Linked DNA regions of Homo sapiens. The protein of the gene in region 3 interacts with the protein of the main gene of each other region in a pairwise test. Each region holds a gene or a part of one and is shown on either strand. Other genes may lie near its edges.

Evidence for each region.
Region 1: the proteins of LENG8 (region 3) and HMGXB4 interact in binary tests that used the Homo sapiens proteins (3 or more experiments, as listed by UniProt).
Region 2: the proteins of LENG8 (region 3) and CFAP53 interact in binary tests that used the Homo sapiens proteins (3 or more experiments, as listed by UniProt).
Region 4: the proteins of LENG8 (region 3) and WFS1 interact in binary tests that used the Homo sapiens proteins (3 or more experiments, as listed by UniProt).

The regions. Positions count from the first base shown.
Region 1 is NC_000022.11:35,252,637-35,260,507, forward strand, and holds the start of HMGXB4 (HMG domain-containing protein 4), read left to right. Parts: upstream 1-4,856; 5' UTR 4,857-4,921; intron 4,922-5,551; exon of another isoform or gene 5,552-7,871. UniProt on the Homo sapiens protein: Negatively regulates Wnt/beta-catenin signaling during development.
Region 2 is NC_000018.10:50,228,493-50,235,513, reverse strand, and holds part of CFAP53 (cilia- and flagella-associated protein 53), read left to right. Parts: intron 1-7,021. UniProt on the Homo sapiens protein: Microtubule inner protein (MIP) part of the dynein-decorated doublet microtubules (DMTs) in cilia axoneme, which is required for motile cilia beating.
Region 3 is NC_000019.10:54,444,547-54,452,210, forward strand, and holds the start of LENG8 (leukocyte receptor cluster member 8), read left to right. Parts: upstream 1-4,652; 5' UTR 4,653-4,764; intron 4,765-5,110; exon of another isoform or gene 5,111-5,198; intron 5,199-6,743; 5' UTR 6,744-6,798; coding exon 6,799-6,836; intron 6,837-7,546; coding exon 7,547-7,664.
Region 4 is NC_000004.12:6,286,829-6,293,849, forward strand, and holds part of WFS1 (wolframin), read left to right. Parts: intron 1-264; coding exon 265-347; intron 348-2,158; coding exon 2,159-2,303; intron 2,304-4,368; coding exon 4,369-4,539; intron 4,540-5,088; coding exon 5,089-5,169; intron 5,170-7,021. UniProt on the Homo sapiens protein: Participates in the regulation of cellular Ca(2+) homeostasis, at least partly, by modulating the filling state of the endoplasmic reticulum Ca(2+) store.

The DNA.
Region 1 (7,871 bases), on a different chromosome or scaffold from region 3:
GCTTTCTAGCTGCATGTTGCTAGCTAGATGCATGAGCTGGCAAAAGTGGTGGAGTGTGGGGGACCCATTAGAGACAAGAAAATGTGGCCAGGCGTAGTGGCTCACGCCTGTAATCCCAGCACTTTGGGAGGCCAAGGCGGGTGGATCATGAGGTCAAGAGTTCGAGACCAGCCTGACCAACATGGAGAAACCCCATCTCTACTAAAAATACAGAAATTAGCTGGGCATGATGGCACGCGCCTGTAATCCCAGCTCGGGAGGCTGAGGCAGGCGGATCACCTGAGATCAGAAGTTCAAGACCAGCTGGCCAACATGTGAAACCCCATCTCTACTAAAAACACAAAAATTAGCTGGGTGTGGTGGCACATACCTGTAATCCCAGCTACTTGGGAGGCTGAGGCAGGAGAATCGCTTGAATCCGGGAGGCGGAGGTTGCAGTGAGCCGAGGTCATGCCACTGCACTCCAGCCTGGGCGACAAGAGCAAAACTCCATCTCAAAAAAAAAAAAAAAAAAGAAAAAAGTCATTAGCTGAAGTATAAGCTCATGTTAGCAGTGCTTTATCCTGACAGCAATGGCGGATGGACTTCGAAGTGGGGAAGGGGCCCTGAAGATAAAAATCCATTAGGAAGCTATTGTAATAGCCCAATGAGAGATGGCCCATCTATTGGGGCACATTTTTCTTTTACATTTGTACCATAGTAATTATGGACTTAGACTTGTTTTACATTGCCCACAAAACACACATACACACAGAAGATAATAAGTTGCTCAAAAGCAGGAAAACAAGTATCATTGCTTCACCATAGGGGACATTTATTATTTGTCTTCCCAGAATAGATCCCCTTTCTTTTATAGAAGGACTAATGTCCTATTGCAACTTTGTGGTATCCCAGGAACTATCACAATACTGAATGATCACATGACCCCATCCCAGCCAATTGGAGTTCTTCTCTTGGATTTTGTGCGCGCGCGCGCGCGCGTGTGTGTGTGTGTATGTGTGTTGCTGATGTGGGAACATGCTCTTTCCTCTCTGGTCAGGAGACTATAAAGATGTAAGCCTGGGCTACCTGTGGCCATGATTCCAGGCCCCTAGGGACTGCCAGCCTGAGAGAACAGAGTTAAGAGGGAAGGATTTGAATCCCCGGACCCAGCTGTCCAGAGGGCCTGCTTCTCTCTGGCTCTGAGTAGTTTTTGTTTTGTTTTGTTTTTTACATGAGTTACATATTTTCTACTGGTCTCTTTATTTTTTTAATTTTGCAATTTAGGGCATACACACAGACTGAGAATCTGTGGTATGTCCCTCTGCCTGTCTCTTAAGGTAGTTTTAATTAGGTCCTGTCACTTCTAGCAAAAGGCCCTGGCCTAATGTATGTACCCAGGATGGCATCCTCCCATCAGACCGAAGACAAAGACGCTGCTCAAAACACATCTGGAAAGAGAAGAGCACAGAAAAGTGGCCTGAAGAAAGAGATGTCCAAACCAAGCACAATTTGACAGGCCCCACCTGTTGCTGCCAGGCACCAGGCAGTTTTCCTTAGATCAGGTGGACCAGAGAACTGCCCCACACTTAGGGAGTGCCCCCTCTTCACATATGCTAGATGCTATCCTCACTTGCCATGGGAAAAGGCATTCTTATTCACAAACCCCACCATGACTAGGCCTGCCCAGAGGGTCCTCTTTTCTGTCTTTCCAAGTTTCAAAAATGCAAGAGAACTATGAAAGATAGTCAGCAAAGAATACTTTTCCAGCAAGGTACAGAGGAAGCACTTGAATACATTCAAGGAACTATGATCTCCTGGCTCCCACCACCAACCCACTTCTGGCTGAGCTAGCTCCGGTGTGCACCTCAACAGAGAAGCCTCCCTGATTACTGTTTTAAAGAACAAGCTGTTCCTACCCACATCCCCTGCTGGTACTCTCGTAGCCAACCTGGCATTATTTTCTCCACCTCTGATTATCACTGAATGTAGTATTCATATCTTAATTTTGTGTCCCCCAACCCAACCGGAATGTAAGCTCCTGGGGGCCAAGGACTCTCAATTCTGTTCACTGTTCTATTCCCAACACTTAAGACAGTACCTGCCACATGCTGTGTTTTCAATAAATATCTGTTTAATAAATGGAAGTGCAATGATCCAAGACTGGGAGCAAGTTAATAGCATTTTGTGATTGAGTGAGTAGGCTGAGGAGAGATCTGACTTCAGGTCTCCAGGAGCTTAAAATGAGCAAGAACTTGATATGCTCCATCTTCAGGTGGACTAAAAGAAGAAATGGGACCAATAGGACTCATAAGGCTTTTAGGTCCAAGCTAGTGGTAGAGTGTGGGGACAGCTACTGTTTTTGCCTACCTAACATGCACTCACCCTTCTGACAGCAACCCTTGATTTTCTTTGTGTCTACCCCAACCTAATTTTGGAGGTAAGCAGATGACCTAATTTAACCAATCAGCAGCAGCAGCAGACTCCACACCTTTACTCATAGTGATTGCTTTTTGTCTGGACACATGATCTAATTCAGGCAATAAGAATCAATCCCATGACTTTTGCCAAAGCAAAAGGGAAAAAGAAACTCCTTCCAGGGCCAGGCATGGTGGCTCACATCTGTAATCCCAGCACTCTGGGAGGCCAAGGCAGGAGGATTGCTTGAGTCCAGGAGCTTGAGACCAGCCTGGGCAACATGGTAAAAAAAAAACAACAAAAAAAACCCATCTCTACAAAAAATACAAAAAGTACCTGGGCATGGTGGCATGCACCTGTGGTCCCAGCTACTTGGGGGGCTGAGGTGGGAGGATTGCTTGAACTCAGGGGGTCGAAGCTGCAGTGAGCTGTGATCGTGCCACTGCACTCCAGCCTGGGTGACAGAGAAAGACCCTGTCTCAAAACAAACAAACAAAACCTCCCTCCACAGGGACACTGCTAGCAGGAAAGATGATGAAGCTTGGAGCTGCTGGAGTCATCACCTGAATCTGAGAATAAAGCTAACAGAGGAGAGCACCACAGACACGTCAAAGGACCAGCTTGAGTTACCTCCCTGGAAGTGACCATGTCTGCAGGTACTGGAAATTTCAATCATGTGAGCCAATAAATTCCCCTCTTCTGGGGAAACACATGGAAATGGGTTTCTGTCACAACTGAAATCATCCTGACCAATGGATTTAGGGCTCTGAAGAACAAAAAGGAAATACATCATTAGGGCTCTTAAATGCCTCAAAGGGAAGCCTAACGTCAGGCAGGGTGTCCCAGAAATGCAATCTAACACCTTTTGGTGAAACTCATTGCCTGTCTTTTTGGTGAGTAGGATGGGAGCTGCGGAGAAAAAGGCCATGCTACTTTTATTAAGTATTTGCAGTTACATTTTGCAAATGATTTCAGCAACTTTATCTCAGGTGTTTTAACATCTCAGCATCTCACAGTTGTAAGAAACAGAATCAATCTTCTACTCAGTGCAGAGGGGGAGAGAGCATGATATAGCAAAAAGAGCACTGAACCAGAGTCTAACAATCTGGCTTTTCATCTTTATCTGATCACTGATTAGAGTGTGGTCTCAGACAAATCACCTTGCTTTTATTGGTCTCATGACTACCTCGTCTTCAAGCACTCACCCAACTCTGCAATGGAAAATACACTAGGACAGAGGTTCTTAATTTTTTATGGGGCCTGGGCCCTAGGAAAACACACACTGCACACATGATTTTACGTTGCATGGGGTTCACAACTCTAGAAGCCAATCTACATCTCTAACTTCTCTGCTTTACAGTAACACCAGCTTCTGCTTGAGCGCTCCTCCAGTGGGAGGGAGCTCACTACTCACAAGGAAGCCCATTGTACTACTGAACTGTACTAGAAAAATAAGTTATTCTTCATATATATATATATTTTTTGAGATGGAGTCTCACTCTGTCCCCCAGGCTGGAGTGCAGTGGCGCAATCTCGGCTCACTGCAATCTCCGCCTCCCGGGTTCAAGCGATTCTCCTGCCTCAGCCTCCTAAGTAGCTGGGATTACAGGCACGCGCCACCACGCCTGGCTAATTTTTTGTATTTTTAGTAGAGACGGGGTTTCACCACATTGGTCAGGCTGGTCTCGAACTCCTGACCTCAGGTGATCCACCCACCTCAGCCTCCCAAAGTGCTGGGATTACAGGCGTGAGCCACCGCCCCTGGCGTTCTTCTTCATATCAAACCAAGTTCTATACACTGTAATTTCTACTCATTGGTCGAAGTTCTCAATGGCAAATCAGAAAAATTGTGTTCTCGCCTGTATATGACATCTCTTCCTCTCTCTCTCTGAAGACTGTTTCTAACTAAAAAATGTAGATGATTCGCCATGCAAATTATTTTACTGTACATTGTTACAAAGATAAGTTCTTCACCTCACCCCTAATATGCCAAATGTTCAAATGTAGATGCTGAAGTCCAAATAAGCACACTGCTATTAATCTGCATAGATCTAGGTGTTGCAAAGAGGAGAACTGCTGTATAACAATATCTTGAAAGAAACAGCATAGTATTTTGGGGAAAGCACTGCATTCAGAATCAGAAGACTTGGAGTAATACTCGGTCTCACATTCCAACTACCTGTGTATCCTTGGGCACGTCACTTAACTTCTCTCAGCCTGGTTCTCTTCTGCAAAATGCGACAGGAATACAGTGAGGATTAAGTGAAATAATGTTTGTAAGCTTCTAGGGCAAGGCTGGGACATAGCAAATTCTCAATAAATAAGTGCCAGCTCCCGCGCTCAGCAGGCTCCGAGTTTTATTCGATGCGCTCGGCGCTCTTGGTCGAGCGGGATTCCCCCTCCGGAGCCCGAGTCTGCGCTCTGGGCTCGACTGAGGCTCCCTGGCCGCTCGCGCTTTTCTCTCCTTCTCCAAGATGGCGGCGATCGGCGGCGTTGAGGCGGGATCCGGGCGAGCCGAGTGAAGGTAGCGGCGAGCGGAGACCCCAGGAGACCGGGCTGGGCCCCCACCCTGAGGCGGCAGCAGCCCCGCCCCGTCGCCACCCGCCGCCCTGGGCCCGCGACATCACCTCTGGGGTGCCCCAGGCCCTTCGCGGCCTAGCCCAGGGGCCGAGCCGGGGACTGGAGTAGCGGCCGCAGCCGCCCCCAGGAAGGGGCTGGAGCGGGCAGAAGGAGGAGGGCGGGCGGGAGCTGTTCAAACGGGGAAGGCGGGAAAGCTGCGGGGCCGGGAGGGGGCGTGCGGCCGCCCCGGGGGCCTGCGGACCCGGGCCGCCCCTCCCCCTGCCCGGGCCGTCTCCGCCCTCGGGGGCGCCGTGAGGCCGCCGGAGACGCGGGAACCCGGGTTCAGGTCGAGCTGTGCGGCTCGGAACCCGCGATGCGGGGGTCCCTCGGGCTGTCAGGGGGAAAGGGCTCGTGGCCGCGGCCACGGGAGGGCTGGGGCTGCGGCTGGCAGGAGAAAGTACGAGGAGCTTTCTTCTTTTCCTCTTCACAGAGCTTTGTTGAGCTAGCTGTTGCCGCAAAACTGCCGGGAGAATCCCACTGGTTTGCCTTGGGGACCACAAAAATGGTGGTCCTGGGGGCTGTTTGTGTAAATCACCTGGTATTTTGTGTGTTTCTTGCGTGCAACCCGGCTTGGCCGTGCCTTCGTGGTGGGCGCCTTCTCCATGCAGGCCCATTTTCCCTCCACCAACTACTACTTGTAGATTCACTTTATAGCGTGCAAAAGCGGAGAAACATCTCTGTCCCCTCTTTTGGAGGGCTAAGCTGGTGGCTGATTATATTTCCTCCTAATAGAACAAAGTAAAAAACTGAATCCCAAATAAAGCCTGTTGATTGGACAAGGCTTCTCAAAATTCGATTGCTGGTCTTATGGAATGTGTGTTGTCAGCCAATCTGTGCGGTGGTCGTGGTTCCGCTTAATTGCACTGCAATGAGAGGATTCAATCCCCATCCCCGACTGTCGGGATCTCTGCAGCTTCCAGAGCTGGCAGGGGCTGGGAGTGCTGCCTAGGTAGGTCCCTGGAGAAGGGAGTGGCAAGAGGATTCGGAGTCACCGTGTTCGGAGATTGGAAGAAACCTGGACGAAGTTGAGAAGGCATCACTTGTCTGTATCGTAGAAGTAACAAGAAAATTTCAGAAATTGGCAACCGGCGGATGTGCATCTTCCTTTACCTGCACTGACTGGCATTTTGAGTTCTTGAAAGGAGTGGTTGGAAGAAGAGAATGCAGAATCTTGGACATGGCTCTCATCCTGGAACAGACCTGGAGTTCAGAATTTCTCTTACTGTCCGTGTGACGGGGCTTACTTTGTTTCCTTTTTTTCGATACTCATTTACATTATGGGGTGAAGAAGGTTGTTGATTGCAGGAGCTCAAGTTACCTCAAAAAAAGTCTGAAACCTGTTTTTTAACTGTAATTTGAAGTTTCAAAATGACAAAGTGCTATATCTGAGGACTTTTTCCTCCTGATTACTTTGGTCATCCCAAAGGCCTATGCCTGAACATAACTTGTATGCTTATCTACCAGGGAAAGAGCAACTCTGCCCCCTCCTTTTTCATATCCTGAAGAAAAGTCCCCGAAGAGCTATTTAACAATTTGTGCATTTCATAAGTATACATTTTTATGGTACCAGTTTTTTACTTGTATCAACAGTATGAAATAGTGAACTTTTACTTATGTTGTCATATCTTAGCACACTGAGACAAACAAAATTATTCTTGCCTCTTGGAGTTGACAACATTGAATTTTATAAACTCCCAAATTATTGAATTGAGACTGGGTTTTAACACCTGTTTCACATTTGCCAACATTTAATGTAATTATGACCTCCCTTTTCTAATGTGAAAATCAAACCTAATATTCATTTTCATTAATCCTCACAATCTACTCTCTACCCCTGAACTCTGAATTTTCACAGATTGTATTCAAGACCTGGAAGGAATATCAGGGGTTCATCTGATCTTATATAAATGTTGCCTGAACTCTGCCTTTCTTTCACACTGTTGCTTGAGATTTATCTGGTATCTTTCCAAAACTAAACCCTGAGCTGCAATAATATCCTGATTTTAAAGAACGTAGAAATTCAGGGCCCATCGGTCTGCCCAAGCTGTGGCTGATACAGTCCGTTGTGTTTAATTTTAGTTTTTCAAGCTCTTGGCTGCCCCAGTTCTTCAGTGAATTGGACGTGTCTTCAGGCCTCATTCCTTCTTTTTTCTTCAGGTTATTTAATCCAGTAATTTATAAAATGCTCTTCAGTGTTTTTAAGAAAATTTAAACAGTGGTAGACCTAATATATGTAATGCCAACACCACATTTTCTTGGTTGGCCTGTGCCTCTGAGAAGCAGTTCCTAATTTTCTATTCCCTCTCACAACTTTTTAATCCACTAGTTTTTTAAAGCAGCCAGTAACGAGACCACGATACAGTCATCTTTCTTTCTTTCTGTCTTCAGAGGTACTTATTTCTATTCTGTTAGGTTGCCCAACTCTGTTTTATGTTGATTTTGATGTTACCAAAGGGAAGGCCTGTTATAAGTCTCAGGACCAGCCTTTGCTTACATATACAAGTGCATTTTGTTGTTGACAAAACACTGATGACTGTATTTATGACATTGAATATTTAAGTTTTTTGCCATTATTTCTGAAATATTCTTTGCCAAAATTCATGCACAGAAAGTGTTTAATTTGAGGTCTCCATTGGTTCTTGGCATTATCAGCCTATGAAAATCTATATAATCTATATATTTTTCTTATAAACTCAGTATTTTAGTGCCATTGAGAGGATATGCTGTTTTCAAATAAATTGATATAATTCCCTGTATTTCCCTTCTACCTGCACCCCTTTTGGAGTCAGCACCACTTGGGTGGAAAGGGGAGGACAGTAGTTTCCGCTGAGAAAGTGTCATCCTTAAATGCTGGA
Region 2 (7,021 bases), on a different chromosome or scaffold from region 3:
TCACTGCAACCTCTGCCTCCCCAGGTTCAAGTGATTCTCCTGCCTCAGCCTCCCAAGTAGCTGGGGTTACAGGCGCATGCCACCACGCCCAGCTAATTTTTGTAATTTTTAGTAGAGACAGGGTTTCACCATATTGGCCAGGCTGGTCTCAAACTCCTGACCTTAGGTGATCCACCTGCCTCAGCCTCCCAAAGTGCTGGGATTACAGGTGTGAGCCACCGCACCCAGCCAATATGAGCTTTATTATAGATGGGAGAAGTAGGGCAACCCATAGCCAAACCCAGCTGGAGAAGCTTTGAAATAGCTGTGCCAGAAAGGAATCTTCAGGAACTCCTTTTTGAGGGCCCTCTAATACTTTGATGTCTTCTTTTATCTTTTCTAAAGTTTTTTGCTACCTGACCTGAGGTATTGATGTAAGAGCAACAAGTTTCATTTAACAGCATGCAGGTGCCTCCTGCCTCAGCGTTAAGCACATCCACAGCACATCAGTTTTGCAAGACAACCCCTGCCAATGAATTTAGGACCTGTTATTGGGCCTTGATGGCCATGACTTTAGCTTCTCAAGATTGCTGGACTAAGATGGTGATATTACAAATGCTGCACTCAAGCATGGGTATACCTGCAAACCAAAAGACTGCATGGGCAACAGAATGTCCTAGACCATTCCTCTCTATAATGAGATCATCAGTGGTGAGGATGCCAAATGATGGAAGGTTGATTAAATCCCGTTTCTGTTTCCTTTCTTCTGATGGCCTTTGAAGGGCCCAACTTAGGAAGGATCACAAATTTGGAACTTGGCCAGAGGTTATAAAGTCTAAGGAGTTATATATATGTACTCCAGGTATTGCTGCAACTATAGTGCACGTCCTCTCCATTTAATAGGCAAGGCTGGAAAAATGTTGGATCCACACAAAAAGAAGAGCCCAGTTCCTTTTAAAGAAACTCCTGAGGAGGGACCTTGTAACCAGGCATAGGTGTGGTTAGTTTGGATTCCAGTATAATTTGCATAAATAGAGGGATCCCATGGTCCCCAGGGATCAAATGTGGCTGGGTGGTGACCTAGAAAGTAGTCATTCATGCATAAGGGAGGAAAGTTTTACTTGTGTTATATGAATGTGGGGCCTGGCAGATAAGAGTTTTAAACATTAATGAGATAACGGAAAATCAAGAGAAAGTTGTAGATGTATTAGTGAGGTTGAGAAGTTGTCCAATCTCAACCCCTATTCCTATATATTCTATCCCAGTAGCTGAACTGTTTATAGGCATAAAAGGATCACTATAAATTTTGCTGGCATTAACTTTGTTGTTTCCCCACCATAGAGAAAACCTGCAGAGGTACACAGTGAACTTGTCATTGTTGTCATATAGCTTCCATTCCTGGTGTGTTTGATTATAGTTGAGGGTGTAATTACAATGGGCTTATGTTAAACACCCTAGGAAAGGGCCAGACCCTTTGGAGTTTCTGATGCAGAGGTGAGCCTTACAAGTGCCTATAAAAGGGCCAGATCCCTCGGATTTTCTGATGCAGAGGTGAACCTTACAGGCCATCTCTGGTGCCTTCCCAATCTGCTCCGTCACAGTGGATGATTGCCATGAGGAATCAATTGGCCTAGGCTCCCCTCCTAAACCTGTGTTTTTGGTGTGTGTGTAAATGGTGTAGTTGAATCCAGAGTATCAGGCTTGTTAGTAATTTCTTCTATGGATAGCGGGACTGCTAGGATATAATGTTATCTTTGAGTGCCTGTCCGCATGGGCATATCCAGAAGTTAGTGCTGTGTGTTATGTTAGCAACCTGAAATATTACTGGGAGGAGTAAGTGCCTGGCTCCAGCCATGGAGGCAATAGCCGTGATAGAATAAAAACAAAGCCATTTTTAAGGAAAATGACAATATGTAGTAAACTCAGGGAGACAGGCGAGAAGAAGGGCTGTAAAGAATATGAGAAAAACAGTTAACCAAACACCTAGTACCTTAGCACACTGATGTGGTGTGGGGGTAAATGACATTACTAGGACAAATATACAAAAAAATTCATCTGGGTGGTAATCTTGGAAGTCCGCTTGCAAATAGCAGTCGTAAACTACCTCCCTTATAAAAGCATCAATATTAAGAGGGTGACGCTGCTTAAGTGAGGCAGTTGGATAATTACTGAAAGCCTGTAGTAGAATTGGATAAAAAGAGTCAGCCTTAAGAGTAAGGTCTAAAGGAGGTGTTGGATTTATTTATTTATTTTTTATTTTTAAGGGAGGTTTAAAAATTCTGGGTTGTTTGAACAAAACCTCTTTTACCTTTTTTTCTTTAACTTTAAATGAGTTTTCGATGTTTGCATTCTAATTAGACCACAAAGAATGAGTTTTATCTCAGCACCAGGACCTTAGTAACAGCAGATTTAAAGCAGGCAGAAAAAAAGGAAGATAGAGAGCTATAGAAGACTTCACTTAACTTTATAGTGCAGGTTAACCATTTGAGCTCTGACTTTTTCTTGTTGTAGTTTGCCCGTTAGTTTAAAATGTACCATAATATGTAACCAGCTGGAGTTTTAAAGAGAATGACAAAATCAGGGGTTAGGATGTTAGAAACTGTCTTTCCCTTTTAAGGCTGGACCCCTGGATTGAACAGAAAAAGAGAAAAAGAAAAGGAAGGAATGGAGAGGAAAAGGTCAGGCTTTACAGGAGGGCTTGTGAGCCTTCCAGCCACTGCACAGTGCAAGGTCAGTACCCCTGCCACTTTTGTTTATCTCCCGCCAGGGAGAGCATTAGCACCCCAGACCTACAAGGTGTGGGATAAATTCTTCCCAACTTTGCAAGTTATCAGTTAAGGTGAGCTGTTTCCAGACAGAGCAGAGAGCCTATTTAGCATAAGGCCATTAGGGGTTGAGATTCTGTCCTGGGGGCCCTTTGATCATCAGGGCAGTCTTTTTTCCAGTGGCTGAGCTTGTGGCAGAGAGAGTAAGCCAGGCAGGGCTTTTAAAATTTATTCCACTGGGGCACTCTGCCTTTCAGTAACCTGGCGTTTTGCACTGATGGCAGTTATCTGAAGGAATGTATTTTTAGGGAAACCTGGAGGGGCTGGGGCTTGTAAAGCAGCCAACAGTTGAGCCTGTCTCTTGCCTCTGCATTTTTCTTTCTTCTTAGCCCTGTCCTCCTTATTCTGCTGTCAGTTGTAAAGGACTCAGGAGGCTAATTTGATGGTTTTCTACATAGGGGCCATGCTGTGTTACACAATAAATTAGACATTTCTTTTTGAGGGTTTGAGAGTTAAATTTGTCTTAATGTTTTAGGATACAACCCAGAAGTGAGTCTGAAGGAATAGATGGGGTTTGTCCCATGGTGGGACTAGAAAACATGCTGCTTGGGGATGGTGCAACTCAGGGGCACAAACTGCACTTTCTCTCAGGATGTCCAGCCGAGATGAAAAGCAGTTCCACTTAGGTCTACTGAGGAACTTGGGGTGCACTTTCTAAAGGGGTGTCCCACCTATTAAGAAAGTCCCCTCGGCCACTCAGGGGCCTTATGCTGGATGGCCAGTCCAGGTACAAGGAAAATGGGTGAAGGGAGGACTCTGCCTGTGTTGGCCCAGGAGAGGGGGTGGGTAAGGGAAAACTCATGGTTCTGAGGCTGTCTGAGATCACCTGATTTAGCAACATCTGGGACAGAATGGCTGGCTGACTCCACAGGAGGATTCAGAGTGAGAAAGAGTGTCTGAGTCACCCAAAATGTGTGAATTTGCTCTGAATGAGCTTCTGCTGCCAGTCGCATCACACGTAGGGATTAGGGACTTCTGACCAGAGAGTATAGGAGGAAGCCTTCCTCTCTTCCAGGCCAGGTGGCTATTTGGCCTTCAGGCAACACCGGATAGTAGCCACAGCTGGTTACTGTCAGTTGCCAAAGAGATACTAAAAGCCAGCTGCTGAAAGGCTGAAAAGAGAAAGTAAACTCAGGTCCCTCACCTGAACAGGTGGTAGTTAGATGCTTCCACACGGATACCTTTCAGTCCCACAGGAGTGTAGGTAGCTCCAGCTAGAGACCTACAATTGTCTCTCTGGGTAGATACTGTCCACTGAGGTTCCTAAGTTGGGAAAGGGAAAGAGAGAGGCCAGAGGCTTCCTCATAAGGAGAGAGTTTCCCATACAGGCTACCAAAATGTGGGTGAGCAGTGACTATCTGGGTCAGTGGTGCAGGGGTAAAAGAATTTACCAAGACAGTTGTAGGTAAAGAAAGGCAGATTTATTAGAGAAAGTAGGAAAACTCAGTGCAAGAAAGCAATGGGCAGCCAGCAAGAGAGGAGCTGACTGCCAGGAAACAAAGGCTTGCCAGAGATTTTATAGGATGGTTCTTGGGCTACTTGATAACACCAAGGTAGCAGGGAGCTAACTTGCATTCTTCTGTCAGCCGAGGTGTTTGATGATAAATCGAAGCATTTGATGTTAAGCAGAAGTTTGTGAGTTTTGTATGTTATCTGCACAGGAGGGCTGTATGTCCTGGGCCATGAACAAAGGCAGACCTATAGCTTACTGCTTTATCTCTTTGCTTTATCCTGGTTCCGCCAGCCTGATTCCTTTTCCCTAAATAGGATACACATATGGGGAGGGAGACAGTACTGTGGCCATCTTTGGAAAATAGAATCTGCCATAGAGGGGTATCCACATTATCTTTATTTCTGATAAAATTCTATTATCTTTATTTCTGATAAAAGTTGATGGAGTGTTTTCTGACCCCAACAACAAATTCTCTGATTCTCCAGACCCCAACTGGGTGTCCAAGAATTCAATTCAGTTCTGATAGTAACTACCCAGAGTTAGTATAGACCCCTCAGGGTAAGGGCTTAGTCCCACAGAACTGCTGCCACTTCAGACACCAGATGCTAGTCCCAGACCACCTTCTGATCAACCAGCTATAAATTGGGGGTTCCCACGACCTCCTCCTCAGGTTCAACAGTTTGCTAGAATTGCTCAGAGAAATCAGGAACACATTTGACTTGTGTTTACCAGTTTATCACAATGGACACAACTCAGGAACAGCCAACTGGAAGAGATGCATAGGGGCTTCCGTGCTCTCTGCGGGTGCACCATCCTTTCAGCACCTCCCTGTGTCACCATCACAGATGCCCTCAGAACATCCTTGTTCAAGAGTTTTTAGAGCTTCATCTCCAGCCCCCACCTTCCCCTCCCAAGAGGTCAGTGGGTGGGGCTGAAAGTCCTAACCCCCTCATCACTTGGTCTTTCTAGTGACCAACCCCATCCTGAGGCCACCCAGGGGCCCTACCCTAAGTCAGCTTATTAGCATAAAATTGGGTGTTCCTATGAATTACAAAAGATACTTTTATCACTCAGGAAATTACAAGAGTTGTAGGAGCTCTGTGCCAAGAACTAGGAACAAAGATCAAATATAATTCTTATTATACCACAGCTGATATTAAAAATGTGGCTTATATTTCTAGCCATTGAAACTACAAAGAGGCCAGGCATGGTGGGTCATGCCTGTAATCCCACCACTTTGGGAGGCCAAGGTGAGTGGATCTCTTGAACCCAGGAGTTTGAGACCGGCCTGTGCAACATGGTGTAACTCTGTCTCTAAAAAAATACAACAACAACAAAAAAATTAGCTGGGTGTGGTTGTGTGCACCTATAGTCCCAAATACCTGGGATGCTGAGGTGGGAGGATCACCTGAACCTGGGAGGTTGAAGCTGCAGTGAGCCATGATTGTGTGATTGTGCCAGTAGTGTACTCCAGCCTGGGTGACAAGAGTGAGACCCTGTCTGAAAAAAAAAAAAAGAAAAAGAAAAAAAGAAAGAGACTACAAAGAAAAAAATGTGGCTTATAAATTGTAAAATTATATAACCATTATGGAAAACAGTATGGAGTTTCCTCCAAAAAATAAATATTAAAACTACTACATAATCTGGCAACCCACTTCTGGGTATATGTCCAAAAAATTAAAAGCAGGGTCTTGAAGAGATATTTGCACAGAAATATTCATAGCACTATTCACAGTATTCAAGAGGTAGAAGCAACCCAAGGGTCTATTAATGAAATGAATAGATAAACAAAACATGGTATATATTTATGATGGAATATTTTTCAGCCTTAAAAAGCAAGGAAATCCTGTCACATGCCACAGTATGGATGAACCTGGAGGACATTATGCTAAGTGAAATAAGCCAATCACAAAAAGACAAATACTGTATGATTCTACTTTTATGAGACATATAAAGTAGTCAGATTTATAGAAACATAAAGTAGAATGGTGGTTACCAGGGGTTGTGGGGAGAAAAGAGGGGAGGGAGTTTCAGATTTGCAAGATGAAGAAGTCCTGGAGATCTCTTTTACAGCAATATGGAGACTTAACTACTGAACTGTACACTTAAAAATGGTTAAGATGTAAATTTGTTATGTGGGTTTTGTTTGTTTGTTTTTGTTTTTGTTTTTTGACAAGGTCTTGCTCTGTTGCCCAGGCTGGGGTGCAGTAGTGTGATCATGGCTCACTGAAACCTCAACCTTCTGGGCTCAGAAAATCCACCCACTTCAGCTGGGACCACAGGCACATGCCACCATGCCTGGCTAGTTTTTTATTTTTTTGTACAGATCAGGTCTCCCTATGTTGCCCAGGCTGGTCTCAAACTCCTGTGATCCTCCTGTCTTGGGCTCCTAAGGTGCTGGGATTATTAGGTGTATGACCTATGTAAATTTTTTTGTTTTGTTTTTTGTTTGTTTGTTTGTTTTTGAGATGGAGTTTGACTCTTGTTACCCAGGCTGGAGTGCAATGGCGCAGTCTTGGCTCACTGCAACCTCCGCCTCCTGGGTTCAAGTGATTCTCCTGCCTCAGCCTCCTGAGTAGCTGGGATTACAGGCATGTACCACCATGCCCAGCTAAATTTTGTATTTTTAGTAGAGACGGAGTTTCTCCATGTTGGTCAGGCTGGTCTCGAACTCCTGACCTCAGGTGATCCACCCAACCTCAGCCTCCCAAGTGCTGGGATTACATGCATGAGCCACCATGCCCATCATAATGTGTTTTTTATT
Region 3 (7,664 bases):
CTGTAGTCCCAGCTACTCGGGAGGCTGAGGCAGAAGAATTGCTTGAACCCGGGAGGCGGAGGTTGGAGTGAGCCGAGATGGTGCCACTGCACTCCAACCTGGGTGACAGAGTGAGACTCGGTCTCAAAAAAAAAAAAAAAAAAAAAAAAAAAAAAAAAAAAAAAAAGGATTGTTTCTGGGTGTGTCTGTGAGGGTGTTGCCAGGGAGGCTGACACTTGAGTGAGTGGACGGGGAGAGGGAGACCCACTCTCAGTGTGGGTGGGCACCATCCAGTCAGCGCAGAAGGTGGGAGGGGCTGGCTTGCTGAGTCTTCTGGCTTTCATCTTTCTCCTGTGCTGGATACTTCCTGTCTTTGGAGATTAGACTCCAGGTTCTTTGGCCTTTGGACTCTTGAACTTCCACCAGTGGTTTGTCGGGGACTCTTAGGCCTTCCGCCACAGACTGAAGGCTGCGCCGTTGGCTTCCCTACTTTTGAGGCTTTTGGACTTTGAGACGTGACTGGCTTCTTCCTTCCTCAGCTTGCAGATGGACTATAGTGGGACTTTGCCTGATGATCCTGTCAGCCAGTTCTCCCTAATATACTCCCTTTCAATATATACATATATCCTGTTAGTTCTGGCCCTCTGGAGAACCCTAATACAGATGGCAAATAAACACAGGAAAAGATGTTCACCGTATGTCATTAGGGAACCGTCCGTTAAAACAAGACACCACTGGCCGGGCGCGGGGGCTCACACCTGTAATCCCAGCACTTTGGAAGGCCAAGGCAGGTGGATCACGAGGTCAAGAGATCGAGATCATCCTGGCCAACATGGTGAAACCCCGTTTCTACTAAAAATACAAAAATTAGCTGGGCGTGGTGGCGCACGCCTGTAGTCCCAGCTACTCGGGAGGCTGAGGCAGGAGAATCGCTTGAACCCAGGAGGCGGAGGTTGCAGTGAGCCGAGACCATGCCACTGCACTCTAGCCTGGAAGACAGAGTGAGACTCTGTCTCAAAAAAACAAAAAAAAAACAAGACACCACTACATACCTATTAGAATGCCAAATCCAAAATGCTGGCACCACCAAATGCTGGCAGAAATGTGGAGCAACAGAAACCCTTCTTCATTGGTGCTGGCAATGCAGAATGGTACAGCTACTTTGGAGGACAGTGTGGTGGTCTCTCATAATCCTAAACATACTCTTAGAATATGAACCAGCAACACTGCTCCCCAGTATTTACACAGATGGGTTGAAAACTTCTGCCCACAAAGAAATCTGCACGTGCACGTTTATGGCAGCTTTCTTTATCACTGCCAAAAACTTGGAAGGAACCAAGATATCCTTCAATAAATGTCTTACTACATTCTGGTTGTTGTAACAAAATACCATACACTGCGTAGCTGAGGCAGGAGGATCACTTGAGCCTGGGAGGTTGAAGCTGCTGTGGGCTGAGACAGAGATCACATCATTGCACTCCAGCCTGGGTGACAGAATGAGAAACCCTGTCTCAAAAAAAAAAAAAAAGTACAGTTTTGGTTTTTGCTGTGACTGGGCTCCTGGAGTGAGAGCTCTGGATCCCAGCTGCAAGATGAGGAATCTGGAGCCGAGAGAAGGGAAACGAGTTTTCCAAGTCATACGGCTGGTTAAGTAAAAGAGCCGGGATTATGACTTAGGTTTCCTGCCCCCCAAGATTATTATTTTTTGAAACAGAGTTTCGCTCTGTCTCCCAGGCTGGAGTGCAATGGCATGATCTGGGCTCACTGCAACCTCCACCCCCAGGGTTCTAGCGATTCTCCTGCCTCAGCCTCATGAGTAACTGGGATTACAGGCATGCGCCACCATGCCCGGCTAATTTTTCTGTATTTTTAGTAGAGACGGGGTTTCGCCATGTTGGCCAGGCTGGTCTTGAACTCCTGACCTCAGGTGATCCACACGCCTCGGCCTCCCAAAGTGCTAGGATCACACGCATGAGCCACCGCGCCTGGCCTACCCAAGATTATTAAAATAAGTTTTCAGAAGCAACCCCCTACTGGCCAGGCGCAGTGGCTCATGCCTGTAATCCCGGCACTTTGGGAGGCAGAGGCGGGCGGGTCACCTGAGGTCCGGAATTCCAGATACTGTGAAACCCTGTCTTCACTAAAAATACAAAAATTAGCTGGGTGTGGTGGTGCACGCCTGTAAAGAGAATTGCTTGAACCTGGGAGGCAAAGGTTGCAGTGAGCTGAGATCGTGCTACTGCACTCCAGCCTGGGCGACAGAGCCGTCTCAAAAAATAATAATAATAATAGATTTTTTAAGAAAAGCAATCCCCTAGTGACTTCTTAGAGCACATCATCAGACAGTTGGGGTAAAATTCTGAAGTGGATTAAGGGAGGGGTGCTGGTTTGCCTGGATGGCTACATGAACATAGCCCTGGAACCAACCAAATATGTAACTGGACAACAGAAAAATAAGTACAGGGTGCATTAATCAGAGGCAACAATGTTTTGTACTTAAGTACACAGAAGACACGATGTGAAGACACCAAGAGAACAGTACTTTTCATGGTTAGACACATTTCTTAGGTATTTTTTCTACTTTGGGATTCTTTTGTGATATAATTTGTCCTGTTTACATAATTTTTTTCCCTGACATGTAAGATAAATGTATCTAATTGTGGGCTTACTTGTAAAGAGTTTTCACATTTAAGTTCCAGTCATTTCATTTTATCGCTGTATCTGTGTACAGAATGCTAAAGAATAAGACATAAAAAATAAAAGTACAGTTATAAACACCTCTTTTAAAAGGCAGAGACTGTTCGCTTGGGCAAAAAAAAGCAAGATCCAACTACATGCTATCTACAAGAAACCCACCCTAAATACAACAGGTAAAAGGAAGCTAAATGGAACGTGGGTCCTGGCTTGTACCCTGGCATGTAAAGAAAACATTGGAGGAAAAGGTGGTGAAATCCCAGTAAAGTCTGGGTTTTAGTTACAGTAATGCATCATGTCAGTATCTACAACAAACCACTTTTGTTGGTGCTTGTGATGACAGCATCAGAAGAAAGTGGGCATAAAACATGGTGGACTGCTTATGATCTTTGCAACTTTTCTTTTTTTTTTTTTTGAGACAAGAATTTCACTCTTGTTGCCCAGGCTGGAGTGCAATGGTGTAACCTCGGCTCACTGCAACCTTGGCCTCCTGGGTTCAAGCGATTCTCCTGCCTCAGCCTCCCGAGTAGCCGGGATTACAGGTGCACGCGCCACCACGCCCAGCTAATTTCTGTATTTTTAGTAGAGACGGGACTTCACCATGTTGGCCAGGCTGATCTTGAACTCCTGACCCCAGGTGATCCACCCATCTCGGCCTCCCAAAGTGTTGGGATTACAGGCGTGAGCCAGCGCGCCCGGTCTTTGCAACGTTTTGAATAAATCCAAAATTATTCCAGAACAAAAAGCTTAGTACCAAAAAGAAAACAAAAACAAAAACAAAACAAACCCCCCCCCCCCCACAGAGTAAAATAACGGAAAAAGATCTACTATGCTAGCACTAACAAAATAATACGTAGTTATGAAAATGGTATGTATTTTTCAAGCTAGACGTTCATAATGGTAGAACATGAGGAGGAAAACTGCCTCTTAAATCCCACCACTTACTGTGACACAGTGACCGGTCCCTGCAGCGGACTGGATAGTTGTATCAGAGTCCTGGACGGAAACAGATGGCACTCAAAAGGTGGCGCGCAGTTCAGAGAAATGCCTATGTACGGATTTGGTCCAATGCCTCAGCCTGACCTCAGGGACCTTCGGGGGTCTGCTCCGCGCCCACCCTTACACATCTGTGACCCCACACACTTCCACCCCAGCGCCACTGCCAACAGCTACACCCATCCCCCTCCAACCGCGTCAGCTTCCAGCCTCGGTCCATCTGAACTCGCCGTGCCCCCTCCCCTGCGCCCTTCCAGATTCATTTGCTAGGGAAGCCCGCTCTTCCGGGTGGAGCTGTTCCTCATCCCCTTTCTTTATCATTCTCTCCCCAGGGCTTCCACATCACCGTGCTGTGGACAATCCCGGAACTCCTGTCACGCCAGTTTACATTTAGGAACAGTAATGGCTCCCACTGACTCAGTCAAAACAAGGCTGCGGCCGGGCACGGTGGCTCACGCCCGTAATCCCAGCACTTTGGGAAGCCGAGACGGAGGGATCACGAGGTCAGGAGTTCGAGAACAGCCTGGCCGACATGGTGAAACCCCGTCTTTACTAAAAACACAAAAATTAGCCGGGCATAGTGGCGCGCGCCTGTAATCCCAGCTACTCCGGAGGCTGAGGCAGAATTGTTTGAACCCAGGAGGCGGAGGTTGCAGTGAGCAGAGATCACGCCACTGTACTCTATCGTGGGCGACGACAGAGCAAGAGCAAGACTCCGTCTCCGAGAACAACAACAACAGCAACAAGAAAACAACAATAAAAAAAATAAGGCTGCGTGGGAGGCAGAAAGAGCTAATGCGGCCACGCTTGTCTCCTCGGGGCCACCGTCCCCACCCAGACTTCCGGTCTGCCTTAAAATGTTCATGCGTAAGTGCGTGGGCAGGAAGGCGGGCTCAAGCGCAGCTCGTGGCGTTCATTGGCTGTGCAGGGCCGAGGGAGGCGGTGCAAGGCCGCCGCGTGACGTCAGGACGCCGCGGTCAGGACGTCGAAGCCAAAGAAGACCAGAGCCAGCCGGGTGGCACAGCGGTGTCGTGGCCGTGTTGCTGATCGCCTGGGTGGTTGTTGGCGTGTCCCTGCAGCGAAGGATCCTGGTTGGTAAGGGGAGCGGCAGGCGAGCAGGCGGGCGGGGATAGCATCTCCTTTTGGTCTTGCGCCCCGCGAGCCCCGAGGCCTTCTCGGCCGTCGCAGCAGCAGACGCCGCGCGCGAGCGTCGACAGGGTGTGGCGGCGCAGGGGCAGCCACTGCGCCTGCGCACCGGGCCTGGGGCCGCGCGTTCGGGCACTAGCGCGCGTGCGCCGTCGTCTTCTAATTTCCGTTCCTCTCCCTTGGAGTTCTCGGGGCCCCGGGGCGCCCCTCACTCGCCGTTGACCGGGTGTTGCCCCGGGCGACGGGCGGCTCCTGCGCGTCTTTCTGGGGCGTGGTGCGCAGGCGCGGCCTGGGCAGTGGCTCCGTGGCTAGTCGTGGGGATCCGAGCGGCCTCCTCCACCCGGCGTCCTCCTTTGCCTTCGCCCAGCCTGCGGGACGGCCAGGTGCTCCCGGGACCTCAGGCCTCGCGTCTGATGCCTGTCTCTGTTCTTGAGACCCGTCCGGGAGTCCTCTGTCCAGCCCCCAACTCCTGACCTTACCTCTAATCTCCCTTCTGCCCTGGGGCTCCTCTTCCTGTGTCCCCGCCACGATCCCTCGTCTCCACCCACGCCCTGTGTCCTGTTTAAGTTAAGCCTTTGCGTTTCTAGGGCTTTTCCCCAGCTCCAGACTCCCGTTCCTATCCCGTCAACTCGTGGGAATTCCGGTTCTCCTGCGGGATTAATTATCCTACTTATCAGTTACTCCCTCTCGGGAGTTTAGGCTCCTGAATCCTTGCTCCGGAGACACTCCACTTTTCTTCCAATTCTCTCTGTACCCCACTCTTAATTCGTTGAACATGTTTTGGGTCTTCTTTGGCATTCCCAAAGCTTTATGTCCAGACACCCAACCACGGTGATCCCTTTTCTCTCCCAGCCCTACCCCTGCTTCCGGGAACCTCCCGTGGAAGCAGGCAGGGGTAGTCCCACTGAGGACTCCCACGTAGGTCTCTTTACTGCCCTTCGGAGACCTTTTTGAAATCAGTCTGTCAGTGCTAAGAACCCATTTCTTCACGTTGGGGTTCACGTTGGCATTCTCAGGAACGCTCAACGACCACTTGCTTCCAGGGTTAACTTCCGGAAAATCCCCTTTTCCTCTCAAAATTTTCTTCTCTTCTCCAATATTCTTCCAGCCCCCTCGATGCTCCCTGAAAGGCCTCCCTTTTCACAGAGTTCTCGGAAACCTTTCCACCCTCTCAGCCTTAAGGGTTCCCTCAGACTCTTCTCATTATAGCATCCATCCTCTTGGTTCAGGTTCCTTTCACAACCCGTACTCCCTAGCTTTTTTTTTTTTTTTTTTTTTGAGACAGAGTTTCGCTCTTGTTGCCCAGGCTGGAGAGCAATGGCGCAGTCTCAGCTTACCGCCCTCCGCCTCCCGTGTTCAAGCGATTCTCCTGCCTCGGCCTCCCTAGTAGCTGGGATTACAGGCATATGCCACCATGCCCAGCTAATTTGGTATTTTTAGTAGAGACGTGGTTACTCCATGTTGGTTAGGCTGGTCTCGAACTCCCGACCTCAGGTGACCTGCCCGCCTTGGCCTCTCAAAGTGCTGGGATTACAGGCGTGAGCCACCGCGCCTGGCCCCTAGAATTTTTTGTAGACCTTTTCCCCTTGATGGAGGCACCCCTACCCTCTGGACCTTTCATCACAGCCTCTCTTTGCTCACATGGGTTTCAGACCCTTCTCCTTCCCTTTGGGAAGTCTGCTCTGGCTTCCCTGTTTCCAAATCCTTCGTTTTCCACCTGGAGCTCTACAAAGGGGCCAGGGGCTTCCCCTCACTCCAGCCTTTCTAGTCCACACCCAGAACTCTTCAGATCCTTGACCCCAGTGGCTTTTCAGTCAGCCTCCCCTTTTCTGCCCGGCTTCTCTTGAGTCCATCTACTTTTCTTCCCCACTTTGTGACGTGTTTTTAGCTCCCCCTTAAGTCTCCCTAACTCATTCTTTTTCTCATAGACAGTGAAAAAGCAGTCTGGCTCCCGAGGTCCACCCCTTATACCCCAAGGTCCAGATGGCGGCCAACGTGGGTGATCAACGTAGCACAGATTGGTTAGTGAGGCGAGAGGGATGGAGGCCAGTCGGGAGGGAAAGAGGAAGCAAGACCCAGTGCTGTCCTCTGGGGTGGGACCTCCCGTGGCCTTAGGGGAGGTGATGCCACAATCCCTGTGGGTGGGGGTGGTGGTGAGGCAAACACAGAGGGAAGCATTTGGTTGTGGTGTGGAGAGGGGCAAGCTTTCACCTCTCTGAGCTTTCGTTTTTCACAGTACAGCGCTTGCTTTGCAGAATTGTGATGATTCATTCAAGCAAGTGTAATTAGGAGGCAGCTTCCCAACACTCAATACACAGTCATTTATTTGTTTTTCTGCTGATTCCTTATTTTTTCTCAAAATAGTGTGATAACCTGCCGACTGGGGTGATGTCAGACAGAATTCATTGATTCATGAAAGACATAGCCCTAGGAGGTGCCAAGGCCTGTGTTCAGTTCTGTGGGTTCTGTTAATTGTTTTGTTTGTTTGGTTTTAACAACTGCTGTGTGCCAGGCTCTGGGATAAGTACCTTAAGTAGGTGATCTCATTTATCCCTCCCAGCAGACTCTGAAGCAGAAACCCTTTATCAGCATAGTACAGATTAGAAAACTTAGGCTTAGACTGGTAGTAACAGTTAGATATGGGATCCAGGGGCTGGAATTTGCCTCCCAACTTGCCCACCTGTGTACAGTGGGGAGAACAGGTGTGACTTGATGTCCTCTCTCTCTGCAGGTCTTCTCAGTACAGCATGGTGGCTGGGGCAGGCCGAGAGAATGGCATGGAGACGCCGATGCACGAGAACCCGGAGTGGGAGAAGGCCCGTCAGGCCCTGGCCAGCATCAGCAAGTCA
Region 4 (7,021 bases), on a different chromosome or scaffold from region 3:
CCCGAGCGCTTTGAGTTGCTGTTGAACCACCTCACCCGCATAGAGTTTGCTCATCTTGCTCTGGCGCTGCTTGTGACCGGAAGGCAAACAGTGGCTTTCTGGGCATCTTCCCTGTCTGTGTCTGTGTCTCTCTGTACTCCTGGCCTGGATTTGAAAGTGACAAGCAGCAGCAGATCTGAAGACCCTCATGCCTTGTCCCCTCCATCCTGACAAGTGACAAAGTCTGGCTTTGTGACATGTGTGTTTGTTTCTTCTGTGTTAAAGGGCCTACAAAGGGAGACATGGAAATCCCCTTTGAAGAAGTCCTGGAGAGGGCCAAGGCCGGGGACCCCAAGGCACAGACTGAGGTGAGGACTGCGGTGCCGGCAGGGACTTCGGGACGCGGCCCCCGGCACAACAGGCCTGGCCACGAGCTCCACAGCCCACAGAGAAGTGTCGGTGCCTGAGATCGGGGTCAGGAGCCAGCGTGGTGCACCCTACCCCACTTGAGCCCCATGTTGGTAGGGTGCCCATGTTCACTGTGCCAGTTTTCCTCCTGGCACTCCTCTGGGGAGCAGCGCTCATCCCCCTTTTGTCCAACTCACACCTCATCTTGGGCATCACCTCCTCCAGGATGACCTCCTGGCTTCCTGCAGCTGCCTGCTCAGTGCCACCCCTCAACATACACTGTGTATGCTGCCCACTCTTGTCTCCCTGACTGGCCTTTCACCTGGCTGTTAGCTGTGTGCACGGGGCCCTCAGAGCGGTGACCATTCACTTGGGCATCAGCCAAGGGCTGGGCTTTGTGCCAGTGCTGGGGACATGATGTGGCCCTCTCTTCATGGGTGACAGGTTAGTGGAAGAAGCAGACCCAAAAAACCCAAGTAGACAAGACACAGAAATACAGTGATTTTGAATTCTGGTGAGGGGAGAAGCCAGCAGAACGCTGAGACGGGAGGTGGCAGGGGGTCCTGTGTCCTCTGTGGAGGCAAGTTCTCACCACCTCACTCTGTCCCCTTGCACAGGGCTCAAGCAAGTGACCACAGTTATCCTGAGCAGTTTCCTGCCCCCTCTTCTCCCTAAAGAGGAGAAAAGCTTCCACGCGAAACCATAAATTAAGAATTTCTGGCTGGGAGCGGTGGCTCACGCCTGTAATCCCAGCACTTTGGGAGGCTGAGGCGGGTGGATCACCTGAGGTCAGGAGTTCGTGACCAGCCTGGCCAACATGATGAAACCGTGTCTCCACTACAAATAGAAAAATTAGCCAGACATGGTGGTGCATGCCTGTAATCCCAGCTACTTGGGAGGCTGAGACAGGAAAATCACTTGAACCCAGGAAGTGGAGGTTGCAGTGAGCCGAGATCGCACCACCACGCTCCCAACTGAGCAACAGAGCAAGACTCTGTCTCAAAAAAAAAAAAAAAAAAATTTCTTTCCTGACCTCACAGCCATATTGTACTTTAAAGTTCCTCCCACATCCTTTTGCCCAGGCATTTGGAGGCGGGGGGAGCATAGTAAGCCCTTTTATGGGCTCTCTGTGCCCTGGGCCTCACTTTTTCCATCTGTAGAATGAGAAGACTGGACCATTTCAGCAGGGATTCTTTTTGCAAAGGGCCAGATAGTGAATATTCTGGACTCTGCGCAATCTCTGCCGTGTTGCTCAGCTTTGCTGTGGAGCACGTAAAAGCAGCATGGACAACATGTAAATGAATGGTTATGGTTGTATTTCAATAAAACTTTATTTGCAAAAACAGGCAGTGGGCCAGTGCTAACCCTTGGTTAGCTGGCGTCTCTCCAGCCCTGGCTTTCTATGGTCCCCTGACTGTTTTGAGAGGTGTAAAGGACCCAGTCATGGTTCTGATTTCCATGCATTGATGGTGAGCCTTGGCAGGCAGGAGCAACTCAAGGAAGAGAACCTGTACCAGTACCAGTCGGAGCCCGTGTCTCCCTCGCCGTGTGGATGGGGTGGCCACACCTTCCTCACCGTGTTTTGAGGAGCGAGTGGCCGGAGGCTCAGTAGGGCCTAGCCTAGTGGACATGCCTGGTGTGACCCCATTTCTGCCCCTTCCTTCCTGGCCTGGGTGACAAAGGGAAGTGGGTGAAAGGAGGTGGGCTGGCAGGGAGCATGGGGTGGGAGAGGGTCGGAGAATCTGGAGGCTGACTGGTGTCTGGCTTGCAGGTGGGGAAGCACTACCTGCAGTTGGCCGGCGACACGGATGAAGAACTCAACAGCTGCACCGCTGTGGACTGGCTGGTCCTCGCCGCGAAGCAGGGCCGTCGCGAGGCTGTGAAGCTGCTTCGCCGGTGCTTGGCGGACAGAAGAGGTGGGTCTGTGTGAGGCTTAGAACAGCCTCTGGAGGGTTGAGCAGCTTGTAATGCTGCTTGCTAACTGAACAACTAAAATCTTACCAAACCTAACGCTGGTGATGCTGTTGGGAAATTTCAGTTTCTGTTTTGCTGGTGGCCTTCTCATTTTAGACACTGTTTCTGGACTTAACATGGGATATTTAACAGACCAAGCCATTTTCATTCTCTTTGGCTTGTGTTGGTATCTCCAAGTGGTAACTATACATCCTGCTTCCCTGCTGGGTTCTGATCCAAACTGAGACATCGATCCTGGGTTCAGCTGAGAGGCAGTTTCCCTGAGGCAAAGCTGGAGACTGTAATGTGGCCTGCAGTCAGAGTGGCCCATGCCCCTGAGCTGATGTCCGTCGAGTCTGGGCAGACCAGCTGAGGGGCTGTGGGCCCACACAGACCTGGACAAGCATGTTCACTTTGGGAGGAGGCAGGCTGACCCTTCATAGATAATCTCTTTCAAACAGAGAGGCAGGGGAGGAAAGGGACGCAGCTCAGGCCAGGGGTGGTGAGTTAGGACGTTGTCCTGCGCAAGGGAAGTGGCTGTCCCTGGTGCCGTGGGGCAGTGTGCTTCCTGAAGGTTCCACGCCTCAGGGAAAGATGAAAGTGGGTGTCACAAAGGTGTTTTTTCTAATGATACCTTTTTTTTCAGATTGTAAGAGTATTTTATGCTTATCATAGAAAACTTGGACTATGTAGAAAACATAAAGATACAAATTACTCATAACCTTGAAGCCCAGAAGCAACTCCCCATATTTTGGTGTATTTCCTTCTGTGTTTGTTGTTGTTGTTTTGAGATGGAGTCTCACTCTGTCGCCCAGGCTAGAGTGCAGGGGTGCGATCTCAAGTCACTGTAACCTCCACCTCCCTGGTTCAAGCAATTCTCCTGCCTCAGCCTTTTGAGTAGCTGAGATTACAGGCGTGCATTACCACACCTAGCTAATTTTTGTATTTTTAGCAGAGACAGGGTTTCATCAGGTTGGCCAGGCTGGTCACAAACTCCTGACCTCAGGGGATCCACCCTCCTTGGCCTCCCAAAGTGATGAGAGTACAGGCGTGAGCCACCATGCCCAGCTTGTATCATATTTTAAGAGTTACATTTATTATACAGAGTCTTCTCTTTGAAAATTAAACTGATGATTTTGAAAAACTAACAGTGGCATTGTTAGCCAGAATTTCTCACCAACCCAGCCTGCTGATTCCAGAGCAGTTGGAATGACCTGGAGGGGGCTCAGGCGGCCCACACGGCTCATTGTTGGGTGCCAGGGATAGCCCAGAGGCTGCTGGGGCAGAGCGTGCAAGGGAGGAGGCCGGTTGGCCCCGTGTTCCCCCAGCTGCACACACCTTCTGATGTGCAGTTGTGCTTTCTGATTTGAAAAGAAATACATGCTCATGTGGAAAATTTTGGAAATGTTCAAAAGGAGAAAAACATCCAGACCCCCGTGCCAGTCCTCCTGCCCTCTGCTTGGTTGTGCCAGTGTCCCAGGCCGTTGGGGGTAAAGGGAGGAAGGCAGCTGCTGACCAGCGGTAAAACCTGCTCTCCCTCTCCCCGCTGTCCAAGCCTTCCTTAGAAAGGGCTGGGCTGTGTGTGAGACAGAGGAAAGCTCTGTAGACACAGGGGTGGCCCTGCCAGTGCACCCAGGCTGGTGACTGCAGTGAGTCCACCCTGGGTTCAAGACAGCTCTGCCTCTTTCTGACTGTGTGACCTTGAGTGAGCCAGAACACAGGCCTGTGCCTCCGGGTCTGCACCTCTGAGAGAGGGGAGGAACAGGAAGAGGCTGCCTTCTTCCCGCCAGCATGTAGGGGGCACTTGGGGGCGTCTGGTGGGAGACCAGTCTGGCCTCCCAGCTGGAGAGTGGGCGTGGCGCGATGTCCTCTTGAGTCAGATGTCCATGCATCCTTCCCTGGTAACCAAGTCCTGACACCTTCTATGAGTCTCGCTCGAAAGCCTTCCAGGCAGAGTTGGCAGGGTCAGAGTGGCACCGAAAGCCTAGGCAGGGCACACAAGGCCTTTGACCACATCCTATCCCTCAGGCATCACGTCCGAGAACGAACGGGAGGTGAGGCAGCTCTCCTCCGAGACCGACCTGGAGAGGGCCGTGCGCAAGGCAGCCCTGGTCATGTACTGGAAGCTCAACCCCAAGAAGAAGAAGCAGGTGGCCGTGGCGGAGCTGCTGGAGAATGTCGGCCAGGTCAACGAGCACGGTGCGAGGATTCACCCTGGGCACCAGCCTTCCCTGGGCGCCAGCCTTCCCACAGGAGCCAGGACCTTCCCATAGGGGCTGGGACCTTCCCTCAGGGGCTGGGTCTTCCCACAGGAGCCGGGACCTTCCCTGTGAGGACAGGGCCCTTCCTTGTGGGGACCAGGGGACCAGAACCTTCCTGTAGAGACCGTGCCCTAGTGGTGAGGTGTGTGGGTGGCATTTTGACAGCATCTGCCCTGGCTCAAGTGCTCACTCATTGAATAAACCAGAGGGTATTCTGCCCAGTGCTCTGTGACCACGTCTACCAATGGGACGGACTGTGTCCATCACCAAGTGGGAGCACGCTACGTGGTGCTGAGTCCACCCCAGCTACTGGAGGTACAGAGGTGTGGCCCCTGCTCTGCCTGCCCTGGGGGCCCTATGATCCCCAGAACGTAGGATGCCCCTGGAACTGGCGTGCCCTAGGAACAGTGCGCCAGTTTCTGGTGGGCTGCAGGGCACGAGGAGATAGTCAACTTGTCTGACTGTTAATCCACCCTGTCCCCTGCAGATGGAGGGGCGCAGCCAGGCCCCGTGCCCAAGTCCCTGCAGAAGCAGAGGCGCATGCTGGAGCGCCTGGTCAGCAGCGAGTGTGAGTGCAGCCCCTGCCCCGTCTCACCCATGCCTCCCAGCCTGCACCTGCAGGGCGACCTCTCCTTCCTGTGCGACTCCATCCTGGCCTGCCCTATCTCACCCGTGCCTCCCAGCCTGCGCCTGCAGGGCGACCTCTCCTTCCTGTGCGACCCCATCCTGGCCCTGCTAGGATCTCAGGCGGTCCGTTTGGGGCTCAGTGTTCTGGACGCTGGGAGTAGACCCTGCCCACCTGGAGCGCACGCACTGGAGGGAAGGCAGACCCAGGACAGAAACCATGATGTGCCAGTCCCTCTTGGACAAGGAAATACTGGGGGTGGGGACTGGCGGGGGGGTCCTGAGTGGGGAAGGATGAGGAGGGCATTAGGGGAAGGGGCTCCGGGCAGAGGGAACAGCATGAGCAAAGGCCCAGGAGACCCAGCAGGGTGTGGAAGGGGCTCTGCCCCAGCGTAGGCCCTTTGTAGGTAGGCAGGGAACAGAGTGGGCAGAGCCTAGGTTGGGGGATAGAGTCTCTGGGGCACACTGAGCTGGGGGTGCCTCTGGGATGTTTGTGGTCAAAGACTGAGAAGAGACGTCACATCCTCCACGTGCAGCTGGCCAGCCTCACTGTCTTCCATCCACGTGGGGTAGACTCTGCAGTCTGAGGCACTGGGAGCTCCTGTCCTGGAGAAGATAGACAGGCAGGAGGCTTGGGGGCTCAGTATCAATGGGGGGATGGGCCAAGACCCAGGTCTGCCACAGACTCTTCTTGTGACATGGGCAGGTCTCATTTTTCTTTCTGGGTGTCAGTTTCCCCTTCTGAACAGTGAGATGATCAGACAAGGGGACTGAAGGACCTCGCCCATCCTAGAAGCCTCTGTGGCATGTAGGGCAGAGTACAGGTGGGAGCACAGATCCCACCTTCCCACTGGGCCCGTGAGGAAACCGTCCATAGGGTGTGGTCAGAGCCCTCGCCTCTGCGTGGGCGGACATGGGTGCTTGCGCTGCTGTTTTCCTGCTCCATTTGGGGGAGACAAAGAAACACCTCACATGGAAGTGGGAAGAAATCTGTGACTCTAGGAAGCCCGAGGACCAGAGAGGCTGTGACAGTGTCCTGCCACCGAGGTGGCATGGTGCCTGCTGTCCTGAAGTGAGGTGCCTCTGGGCAGGAGCAGCCCAGCCTGGGTCTCCATCCTGGGGGGCACTGCAGGCAGAGTCTGGACCCCAACCTCACTTCCCAGTCCCACAGGGGTTTGTGATGAGCCGGGCACACCTGCTGCTGGGCCCTGTCGCTGTTGCTGGGGGCGAGTTAGGAGTCAGCGCTGCCAGCCTGTGGTCCCCTCCGCCAGGCCCTCAGGGACAGGGCCCCAGCACCCCCATTGTTTCCCCTCTATCAGAACGTTCCCATCAGGCATCATCTGTTTCTCTGCCAGCTTTTCCAACAGAACTCCCAGAAAGGGGCGTCTGTCATCCCCTTCTCTCGTCCTCCGTCCTTTGCTCTCAGGCCTCTGCCATGTTATTCCACCAAAGCGGCTCGTCTAGGCCATCAGTGACCCCCCTTGCTCAGTCACTTCTTGTCCTTGTCTGACTTGATCTGTCAGCAGCGTGGGCAGAGATGACTGCTCTTCTCCTTAGAGCCCTCTCCCCCACCAGGCCCGGGGCCCTTGCTGCCACACTGGCTGCTCCTTCTTGGGGTCCCTAGACTGATGTCCTGTCTCTCAGGACAGGACATCCTGCCCAAGGTATTCATCCCTATGAGGACAGGGGCCTTCCTTGTGGGGACCAGGGTCTTCCCGTAGGGACTGTGCTCTGGTAGGGAGATGTGTGGGTGGCATTGGTGACCACTCTCGTGTGTCAGACGCCGTCCTGAACCC